Regions from separate parts of the Homo sapiens genome. Here region 2 is linked to region 1. The links come from fine-mapping of genetic effects on gene expression. Tissue or cell type: lung. Region 1 holds a variant in brackets; the other region holds the start of a gene. All regions are shown on one strand. Distances are between the middles of the regions.

Region 1 (5,396 bases):
GTTTAAGTCATCCCTTTAATAAATGTTATAGGCAGATAAAACTGAGTGACTTTAGGTGGTGGTTTTCAGTAACTGTTTGCTCTCATATTTGTATAAATGTGAAAGATTTCAGCAATTCTATTGTGCCAAAATTGTACTGCAGTATTCTCAGGAAGAAGAATTAAATAATGCAACATAAAAAGTATTAGATCTATGAAAATAATTTCTTAATTTTCTGTGCTTTTTAAAAAACTACAGTCACAAATCTCACATTGAATGCACACAAATATATCTTCATTTGCATGGCTCAAACAAAACCTGAGTATAGAATGCCATCTGAGATGCCTTAGTTTTAAAAGGATGCCTATAAATGAACTAAAATGAAATAAGAAATAAACTTACGACCATCTTCACAAATGTTCTTGCATTCTTCCAGTGTCTCAAAATTGTTCATATTGCCCAGGCATCCACCATACTTGAAACGTTCACACTGTTTTGTCTGATTGTTATAAAAATACCTGGTAATATAACCTCGACATATTCCAGGATCTTCTTCCAAAAAGCAGAAATCTGGCTTTTCTAGAAATTATAAAAATGTCAGAAAGCAATATTCTTTTGTGTAAATAAATTACTGATTTTAATAAAATTTATAAATACCTGGCTAAGTTATTGAAGGAGTAAGCATAAAAATTAAAAAGTAAAAATCTAACTTTATCCATAAATATACACTATTAAAATTATCTACCATATTTTGGGATTGGCATTTCAAATTCTAAATTTCTCATAGTAAATTAATAGGGAATTAACTGTCATTTTTTTACAAATTTAAGGAATAAAAGATTATTTTACCATGTACCACTCTTGCTTTGAAATTACAAAACATTATGGCAAAAATGTGGTTTAATTATTTTTAATATGTTCATGTGTATTAACATTTAGGGAAGGTCTATGAACATTTCAAGCTATTGAGGGTGGCTTCTCAGGAAAAGCATTGTAGTGCGTTGCTCCATTAAGAATGGTTTAAATTTTTAAAAGTTGAAAAAGAATATTTGAGGGGTAGGAAGTTTTCATGGCTAGCCTTAGAAGTTCCTGAATTCTTATGCGGGAATTAATATCTGTACTAGGTAGGACATCCTTTACTGCTGTGTCATTTTTATTTTTTCCTTCTTCTTGTCATTGGAATGACTTCAATAATGCAGAGGCAGAAAGGAAATACATGTTCAAGGATTGGAGAGGCTTTTGCAAAAGACTAATACTTCTTCTTTGATAGTGCTCCAAAGCAGGCTAAACACAGCTGTCATAAAAGTTGTGCCACTGTGATCTACATCACCAGCTCTGTCTACATGCATGCACTGTGAAAAGAAGTGAGCTAATTTTCAAAATTATTATGCTCACAGGCGTATTGGGCTTGAATTTTTAGAACAAAATTCCAATTTCTCAATTTTTTTCCTGCAAGTATATTACCATATTGGCAAAACTGAACTGTGGTAACCTTTTTTCATCTTAAAGCAACTTGTTCTTCTATGTCAGGGAAGCAATACCCACAAGTATTTTACAATAAAAAAGAACATGTATTTAATAATGTTAATGATTTCTGCAACAGTTGCAGATCTGCAAAAGAACAAACTCCTTATTGAAAAGTTATTTTATTAAGTAAAACTTCCTACTATAATATAGTTTTAAAAGTCTATTTTCTGTAACTTTTCAATGTATTAATTTGAAAGTTAACTTTGTTTCTTCTGTATTGCCTCTTGATCTTTCAAATGAATGTTTTTATGATTTTTAGTTAATTGTAATAATATGTGGGGGAAAGGAATAAAACAATTCTTTAAAATGTTATAACATTTTATAAGGTAAAAATACATTGAATTACTATCATATGATTTGTTTTAGTCTTAATGTGTACTTTTTATGAAATTTTAAATGATCTGAACAGAGGATACAAGAACTTTATGTTTGCCAAAAGTGGATGGAGGAAAAATATTGCATATAAAAAACATAAAGGTATAAAAAATTATGCTGATAAGTATAATTAAGAAATTATACATGTACATAAATATATACACCTAATATGTACCCACAAAAATTAAAAATAAACAAACAAAACCACAACAAACAATAAACTGTACAACTGAAAGTTGTTATTTTTCATATGAAACTACATTGGGAAACATGAACTTATGTGAAGACAAAGTTGAAAATGGACACATGTAAAATAATTCTTTTTTTGGCCTGCAGTTTAAACTACAGTTGCAAATCAAAAAATTAATTTCCCATTTTCTTCAGGTAAATAAATTAACCTTCTTATTGAATTTGCATACATAACCCTTGCTCTAAGTTGGTGCTCAGTTGCACTTGAGTAACACAGAATGCAGACTGGATAAGCTAAAGCATTATCACTGTCAACTTTTGTTTGGGCCTGAATACTTGGGAATTGTCTTGGACCAAACTTTCTTTCTAAGGGATTGTATTAAATCTCAAATCTCTTTATAATGGTCCAATGCTAGGAAGCATAATACAAAGTTCACTCGAAATTGATCAAGTCTTTGTTACAAATAGGTGTTAACATGTAAGCATTTTTAACATTCATGTGAACACAGCTTTATTCTCTAACTTTCATATATAATATGAGATAAGAATGATTGAATTCTGAATTATAAATATACACTTTATAGCATAATTTTACCTAAAAATAGTACCTGTATTTAATTTTTCTCTAATTTTATGTTTTTGGTAAAAGGTCCTAATATTTAAAGGTTGGTATTTTCTTTCACAAAAATATTTATTCTCCTTTGTAGACAAAAACTTCTTTATTATAAATATGCCATTTTGATATTACAGATAAGGCCTTCATTTAATTAAAGTACTAAACATTTTGGTCAAGATTATTTTAATATTTATAGGAATCTATTTTTTAAAATTGTAA[G/GTACA]TACATTTAGTTATGTTTCTTGTACAAACTTTGCTATTATCTTTATTTTATACATTTTGATTCCAATTCTGGTCAGTGAATTGAGCCTAAAGATTATCAATGTGTCACAGAAATTTTCAACTCTTTCCCACATAAATAAATCAAAATAAATAAAATTAAAATGCACTTTGAATTTTGTGGTCTTTCATGTTGCGGTCTTTCATGTCCTGAGTTAAACAATTTAATCTCTTTGTTCAATATTTTCTCATTGAAATGTAAATGCCATAACTGACAATTGGACCAAATCAGTTTCCAGGCCTTTATTAAAAGGACGTTGGTTTCCCTGATCCATTGATAACATTTTTTCTTGTGCTGATATATTTGTGAAAAAGTAATTATTTTTAGCTAAAAACAATAAATGATATGATTTAAATTACACAATTAAACATACACATACATGCTAGATATTTATTTTTAAATATCTCTACTTACTTTTGCATGTATAACTGCTGACAACTCAGAGACATACATCCATTCAAGGGAATATTTGGTGAAACTTGCTAAAGCCACACAATGTTGATTAGATTAACAAGTGATTAGAGATCAGAGAAATAAAGTTAAGACTCAAAATATCTAAATCTCTATCTGGAAGGTGTTAAAATAGCATGTGTGGCTCTGGACTATGATTGAACTAAAACTAAATATCATACTACATTAGAATTAGAGTAAATACGGTGTTTGGAGCCTCCTCTGACAAATATAATGTATATATTTTCCTAATTTTTGATTATGTCCATTGAATCATGCAACAAATCATTTCAAAAATGACATGATCAATCTGTCATATGGGTTTATGATCAATCTCTTTTATGGATTTTTTTAAATCAATCTCAGAGAAACTTAAGAATTGAATATCTATACTGAATCAGGGACCAGAAAAAACAAACAAGCAAACAAACAAAAAATTGAATATCTAAATGCCTTACATAAATGCTTCAAATTTACAGACAAATAAATGTTCACCTTGTTGCAATGTTGTCTTTATAATCCTGTTTGCATTATCTGTAATCAAAAGAATATATGCATATCAATTGTCACAATTTATAAAGTAATACTATGAATTTGAATTTAACAAACAAGAGTGACATATTTATTACCATTAAAATTATTCTTATACAGAATGTCTTAATAAAAATTGAATTTCTTTTTCTTTTCTCTAAAAATTAATCTTTTCTATTTATTGTAACCATGAAGCCACTTCATTTCAATAGAGTAATGTTTTAGAAACTATGATAAAACTTTCTAACACACTTACAAAGCTGAGAATTCATAGTGACTATGTTTACTGTTCAGGATATCTATACTTAAAACAATTATTTTAAAAATGTGAAATATGAAAGTAATTCAAGCAGCCTACATTACATATAAAAATAATTTGTTAGATAACTGGGAATAAAAGTGAAATTAACCAGAATTATTTCCTTTCCTTATTCTTTCCCCTGCTTCGTTGTCTCAATCCAATTGCAAGTTTCATTATTATTACCAATGTAGAGAAGAAATGAAACAAAAGGCATCTGGGACACGTTGTTTGGTTTAACATTTGATTAACGGAATCATTTCCCTCTAAAACTGGAATGTTAGTTGTCTTTGTCCTACCATATTCCAAGTATGAATTCTAAGTTCTAATTTAAATGATAGGTAATGAAATTTAAATTGACAAAATAAATCTATGAAGTTTTAATTTGCTCGCATAGACATTAGGAAAGTTGAGTGGTATTTATTTTGTTGTGGAATTATTTGTTTTGCAGAGAAAATCTTTGGTCAAAGCAGGTTAGCATTCGTTATATGACCAGAGAGATAGAAAGGGAGCGAGAGAGAGAAGGGAAGAAAGAATGAGAGAAATAATATGAATTGGGTTATAAGCCTCTTTCAGCAACTGCATCATCCTTTTTTTCTTGAAATAGTTAATTCTTCTATGGAGAGTAAAATGTCTATGAAAGTGAAACTAACGGACCCAAACTTCTTTTCTAATTGTACTATGTTTTATTCAATAGCCTTTTAAAAAAAGAGGTGTGTGTGTGTGTGTATATGTATAGCTGTATCTATTGAGGTAAGTTTTTTGGTTTACTTTGTTTTCACTGCAACTAACCAACTTCATATTAATGTTTTCAACTAGATTGTAGACTGTCATATAACCTGACATTAAAATATTTAGATATAAAACTAATATGATTTAATTGATAAGAAGAAAGAAATGTATACATATAATGAGTACATAAGACTAGAACACTAAGCAATTTTCATTCCTGATTTACCTATTGACAATAGTCATAAGATGGGAATATATAAATGCTTGATTAATACAATTTTTAAAAGAACATCTATTTTGTTTGTTTACTGTTACATTGTAAATAGGATTAATTCAGGTAATATACATGCCAATTAACTCAATGTGGTTTAGCACACTAGAATTTTAAGTGTATTTATATTACCAATAATTGTCTTTGAGGAC
Region 2 (5,396 bases), 67 kb after region 1:
TTATGCCCTAATAAGCAATATATAATATTTTTTACTCACATATTGACTGGGTAATTCCTTGCAATAATTCCAAGTCTACACAGAGACCTGTGGTCCATCACATGGAACAATTGGGATAGTTGTACTGCAGCATTGGAACTTCTATTATGGGCCATGATGTCCTTATATTCTTTTGTTTTTGAAGTAATTTTAACACCTGGTTGTTCCAACTAAGAGAGGACATAGCATCCCAAATAGAGGCTTAAAGAGAAAACAGTGGATTTGACATGGGCCCATACTTTCTGTTATTGTCGGTTTGAGGAAGAAGAAAAGTAGAGGTGAAGAAGTTGCCTTCAGCAACTGGTAGCTACTGGTAGTTGAATCTCAGGCTGTGGTTCTACTTGGCACCTGACACTTGGAGAAGTGAAGACAGGGAGAGAAAGGTAATGGGAAGACTGGGCCCCCGGAATTGATACATAACACCAAGAAAGCAGTCAGTGAGGATTTCAGAAAGCCAGGAAAGATGGTCTATTATGAAGAGAACTTGCTGGAAACACTTGAACACTTCCCTGTTTCTGGTGAGATTTGATATCCAGAAACACATGTCTATTGAATTCAAGTTTCTCCTAATGCACATTGTAGCAATCAGAAAGAATTATAGTACTGCTATATTTCTATAAAAGATAGCAGAATCTACCTTTGACACTAATGCATGAAAATATATTTGTGTTTTAAAAAGGCAGCCTGCCAAATTTAATTCCTAAAATGAGTTAATTGCTATAGATGGTAAACAAAAAAGGATGGCTGGTTGTAGAAGGCCTTTATTGAGAATAGATGAGTTGTATTGTAGTACAATTCTTAGATCATGTCCACATAGAAAAAAATAAATTGATGATATAATTAACCCATTTTAACCTATATTATAATTCAATTTAATTAATTTATACTGATAAGATTTTTTTGAAAATCCTAGTCTAAGTAATTTTCTTCACTTTTCATATTGTCTGTTCCTTTTTATTTTTTGTAAGGATGTTTACTTTGCATTTTTTTTCTTGTATTAGGTAGAGATATCAGTTGAAAGATACCTTAAAATTTTGTGACACTGAATTTAATCAGCCAACCATTCCTAAGGAATTGATAGCATATTTACTATTTGGTTAGATGGATAGGCACTCTGGCATTAAATTAAGTCTCTAAAGTTGGCATTTTTTCTCCATTAGTTTGCCATCCTGCCCACTTACCTCTTGAATTTGAAAGATGTAAACAAAAGATTTCTAAAGATTAGAAAATTAATTTTTAAGATAATTAAGCTGTTTTGAAAATTAGAGTTTATTACAAAATATGTTATCATTTTATGTATTATTAATTTAACAATAAGTTTTATGACAGAAGATTTAAGTCAAAATAGTTGTACAATCAACAAGCAAATGATAATCATTTCCTTAAATGATTATCTGACTGATAAATGGACAATCAGTCAGACCATCAAACACCAGTTGATAACATAATCCATTTGGACAGGAACCACATTTCCAAAGGAGTTTTGATTTAGTCATTGGTGGTAAAACAAAAGATATCAGACTGTACCTTAAAAACAAAGAAACAAAACAAAACAAAAACTTGTCCAATTCAGTATACCTAATAGAGATAGGAATCAAATAGTAGTATATGTCATTAAACTTTTCCAACAAGATTCTGTGGTCACTTGAAGTAGAAAAACTTGGTTTTCCAATATAACTACTCAAATCAGTAAAAATAAATATTTTAAAGTTTTACTCTTATTTTAAAATTACTTGATTAGTTATCTGTATTTACATTAATATTTTTCAATCTTTGTTGATCCCTAATTATATTTCATATAATTTTATTAAGCTGTAGGCCACAAATTAACATTTCAAACTCAGCCAAATTTCAGGGACTATCCCTCTTTAGTTTAAGGATTAGATGAGATATGGACACTGTATATTGAAATAATCATGCACTAGAATGATAGATTTAAAATAATCTTTAAAATGTGTTAGGGAGATTTTGCCTCCCTAACACATTTTATTCAAAAGTTTTGCAGTATCTCTCAAAATTGTCACAACTTTCCCCCTTTCATGTAAATATTATGCTTTTACACATGAAATATGACTCTCTGGGCAGTATGTTTCCTGCTTGAGTTTTGCCCTTTGTGTTTATATTATCTCATGTTATACAAAGTCATTTTGTGACTAATTTCCAGAGCACTGAGTCACAGTGTGGCTGTTGCTTATCTTTTCTTTTTTCCCACATGGTAGTACTCTTGGCCCTTATTTTTGGTAATTATTTTATACTAATGAGTGCTTTTTCATAATTAAATAATTGTTTCTCTCATTATATTTCTGTGGTTGTTTACTGCTGTATTATATGCTTTCATTTTTCACTAGAAGCAAACATTTTATAACAGGAACATAACAGTACATCATGTAGGCATGTTATCTATTGTTTTAATTTACAAAATTGCACAACATAGACTTGATCGTAAGTATTCTCGTTTAAGTATCTCAGAATATGACCTTTGGTCTTTGGAGAATTGTAAAATATTTCCTTAGAGAGATTAGTTAATGCTGGCATAAAATATTCCATTTAGATTACGATTATTTTAATGGTTATACCTCATTTTAAATATCATCAACTAATAGTATTGAAAGATTATTTGAATAGAAGAATAACAGTCTCTATTTTATATGTTATGAAATAAAATGGAAAGGTAAACCGAACTTTCAAGAACTTCCAATTAACCAAGCACAATTAGTAAAGAATTCTACTACAATCTTCAAATTATAAAAAAGCTACATACACCAATTAGTTACAAAAATGTTTATGGTTTAAAATCATAAAAATTGCACATAAATTTGCTTAAGAACTAAATGCAAAATGCTGAGAACTCAAGTTTGGATTGCAGTTTGAGTTTACTCTGTTTACAGGGAAGGGCTGATTTTCATTTTACGCAAATAAACAGTGATCCTCCCCTATCAGTTCTTTGCCTCTCAGCACCCTGCTTTTCCCCCGAGAAAAAGAAATTAAAGTTATTTCTTATGGGCTAGACAGTATATTGCCAGGTACTCACAAGTAAAATCTCTGATGAAAGTTCTTGGAATGTTTTTTTCAAAACGGAGTTGAGGTTATTTTGTTTTTCCTTCCAGGTATTGAAGACAGGATTTATCTTCTCTACTTCTTCTTTTAGAAGCAGATCAAGAAACTGGCGATTGAAGAGTAACTGAAAGAAACGCAATCTGATCTTACTAGCAGTGAAAGAGCGAGGTAAGAATTTGACTATTATCCAGCCTAAAGTCGCTGCTGTCTGTTAGAGCAAAGAGGGAGCCTCAGAGTCGGCTTCAGAGATCACTGGCAGTTGGGAATAGCCCAACTTCCTGTTTAGGTCACTGCAACTCTGACTCTATTTAGTCTAAACCTCTTTTTTCTTTCTTTCTTTCTTTTTTTTAGTGGAGGAAACAGATGAAGGAAACAGCTTACACCAAGATTTCAGATACGATCATTTTGAATAGCTATTTCCTTTACTTTCCAGGATTGTTTTTGTAATCAGTTGAAAAAGAATGCTTTTTTCCCCCTAGAGTTAGGGTTTAAAAAATTACATATTTATTATTACACTGTTAATAAGCTTTTTTGCAGTTTGTTTCTTCTTCAAGTTATTTCATTTGTTTCACCCACTGTCAATGTATTTATTTTTTTTAAAAGTCTGAGGGCTACCGTTGGAGGTCTCTCTTAGTGAGACAATGTAATGCATTATCTATTGCAGGTGTCAGGCTTTGAGCCCTACCTTAGCTACTTGCTAACTTGGCTACTCAGCCCAGTTATTTGAATTCACTATGCCTCAGTTCCTTTGTTCCTAAAATGTCGATAATAAAAGTTTCTGGGCTTGATGTAAGTACTAAATGGCTTAATACATAAAAAGTACTTAAGGCAGGACCCAGCATGTAGCAAACCTCCAATAATTGTTGGCTATCATTATCGCTGTTTTCTGTATTTCTATTATTATTATTCTACAAAATATGTAAATATTTACAGATGTCAACCAGAGTCTCTGCTGTATGTCCCTATCATTGAGGTTCATCCGTACTGTCTCTGTATTGGAATTATGGTCATATCAGACTAAGATCACTAGAGATCTAATAAATGGGCAGAATCTACTTTGCCAGGAAGGCTGAAGACATTTGGTCAGAAAATGTAGGAGTTTCTTGCTTCTGCATCTCAGATTCTTTGTGCCTTCAATTTTTCTTGCTTTCCTTAGACCTCTCTGTAAAAGGTAACCTTTCATCTTGAGTGTTTTTAATACATATTGAATAATTATTTGGTGGTGACTGGAACATAAATTATCGATTTAATTCTCACAACTAGCTTATAAAGAAGGTCCTCTTTGTATGCCCATTTCACATGTCTAGGAAGATCGAGTTCAGTATGTGGAGCTGTGATTCTAATGTCATGCAGTCTGCCTTTAGAGCAAAAATGCATAAATCCTCCTCCATGCTGCCTTCTCACTCATGTTCTGGATTTCATATCATGTTAATAACTTATCTCCTATTACCTCATGCCCTGCCCCTCAACCACAATCAAAGCTATCATCTCACTCAGATTGTAGAGGAAAGTCCTTTTTTCTTGGTACCACCATGGACCTTGATTAAACTTTTGAGGAATCTGTAGCTCAGGTAGAGGCAAGCTCAGCCAATCAGATTTTCTTTCTTGAAAGTTTCGCCTCTCCTCCCTCTCCCTCTCCCTCTCCCTCTCCCTCTCCGTCTCCCTCTCCCTCTCCCTCTCACGGTCTCCCTCTCCCTCTCTTTCCACAGTCTCCCTCTGATGCCGAGCAGAAGCTAGACTGTACTGCTGCCATCTCAGCTCACTGCAACCTCCCTGCCTGATTCTCCTGCCTCAGCCTGCTGAGTGCCTGCAATTGCAGGCGCGCCGCCACGCCTGACTGGTTTTCGTATTTTTTTGGTGGAGACGGGGATTCGCTGTGTTGGCCGGGCTGGTCTCCAGCTCCTAACCGCGAGTGATCCACCAGCCTCGGCCTCCTGAGGTGCCGGGATTGCAGACGGAGTCTGGTTCACTCAGTGCTCAATGGCGCCCAGACTGGAGTGCAGTGGCGTGATCTCAGCTCGCTACAACCTCCACCTCCCAGCCGCCTCCCTTGGCCTCCCAAAGTGCAGAGATTGCAGCCTCTGCCCGGCCGCCACCCCGCCTGGGAAGTGAGGAGCGTCTCTGCCTGGCCGCCCATTGTCTGGGATGTGAGGAGCCCCTCTGCCTGGCTGCCCAGTCTGGAAAGTGAGGAGTGTCTCTGCCTGGCCGCCATCCCATCTAGGAAGTGAGGAGCGCCTCTTCCCGGCCGCCATCCCATCTAGGAAGTGAGGAGCCTCTCTGCCCAGCCGCCCATCGTCTGA

Evidence for each region. PIP is the estimated chance that this variant, and not a neighbour inherited with it, causes the effect. A credible set is the group of variants that fine-mapping cannot tell apart.
Region 2: it holds the start of TFPI, and the variant in region 1 is the best candidate, but not a certain one, in a credible set for the expression of TFPI in lung (TOPMed, PIP 0.72).

The regions. Positions count from the first base shown.
Region 1 is chr2:187,484,430-187,489,825 of GRCh38, forward strand. TFPI (tissue factor pathway inhibitor) reads right to left here. Exons shown (of 8, transcript NM_006287.6): 4 at 3,908-3,946; 5 at 382-558. All of the region lies in intron 2 of CALCRL-AS1 (CALCRL and TFPI antisense RNA 1), which reads left to right. Among named protein-coding and RNA genes, the nearest start is that of CALCRL, 39 kb to the left of the region's middle. The variant G/GTACA (reference allele first, on the strand shown) is at 2,906.
Region 2 is chr2:187,551,130-187,556,525 of GRCh38, forward strand. TFPI (tissue factor pathway inhibitor) reads right to left here and starts at 3,306. Exons shown (of 8, transcript NM_006287.6): 1 at 3,071-3,306.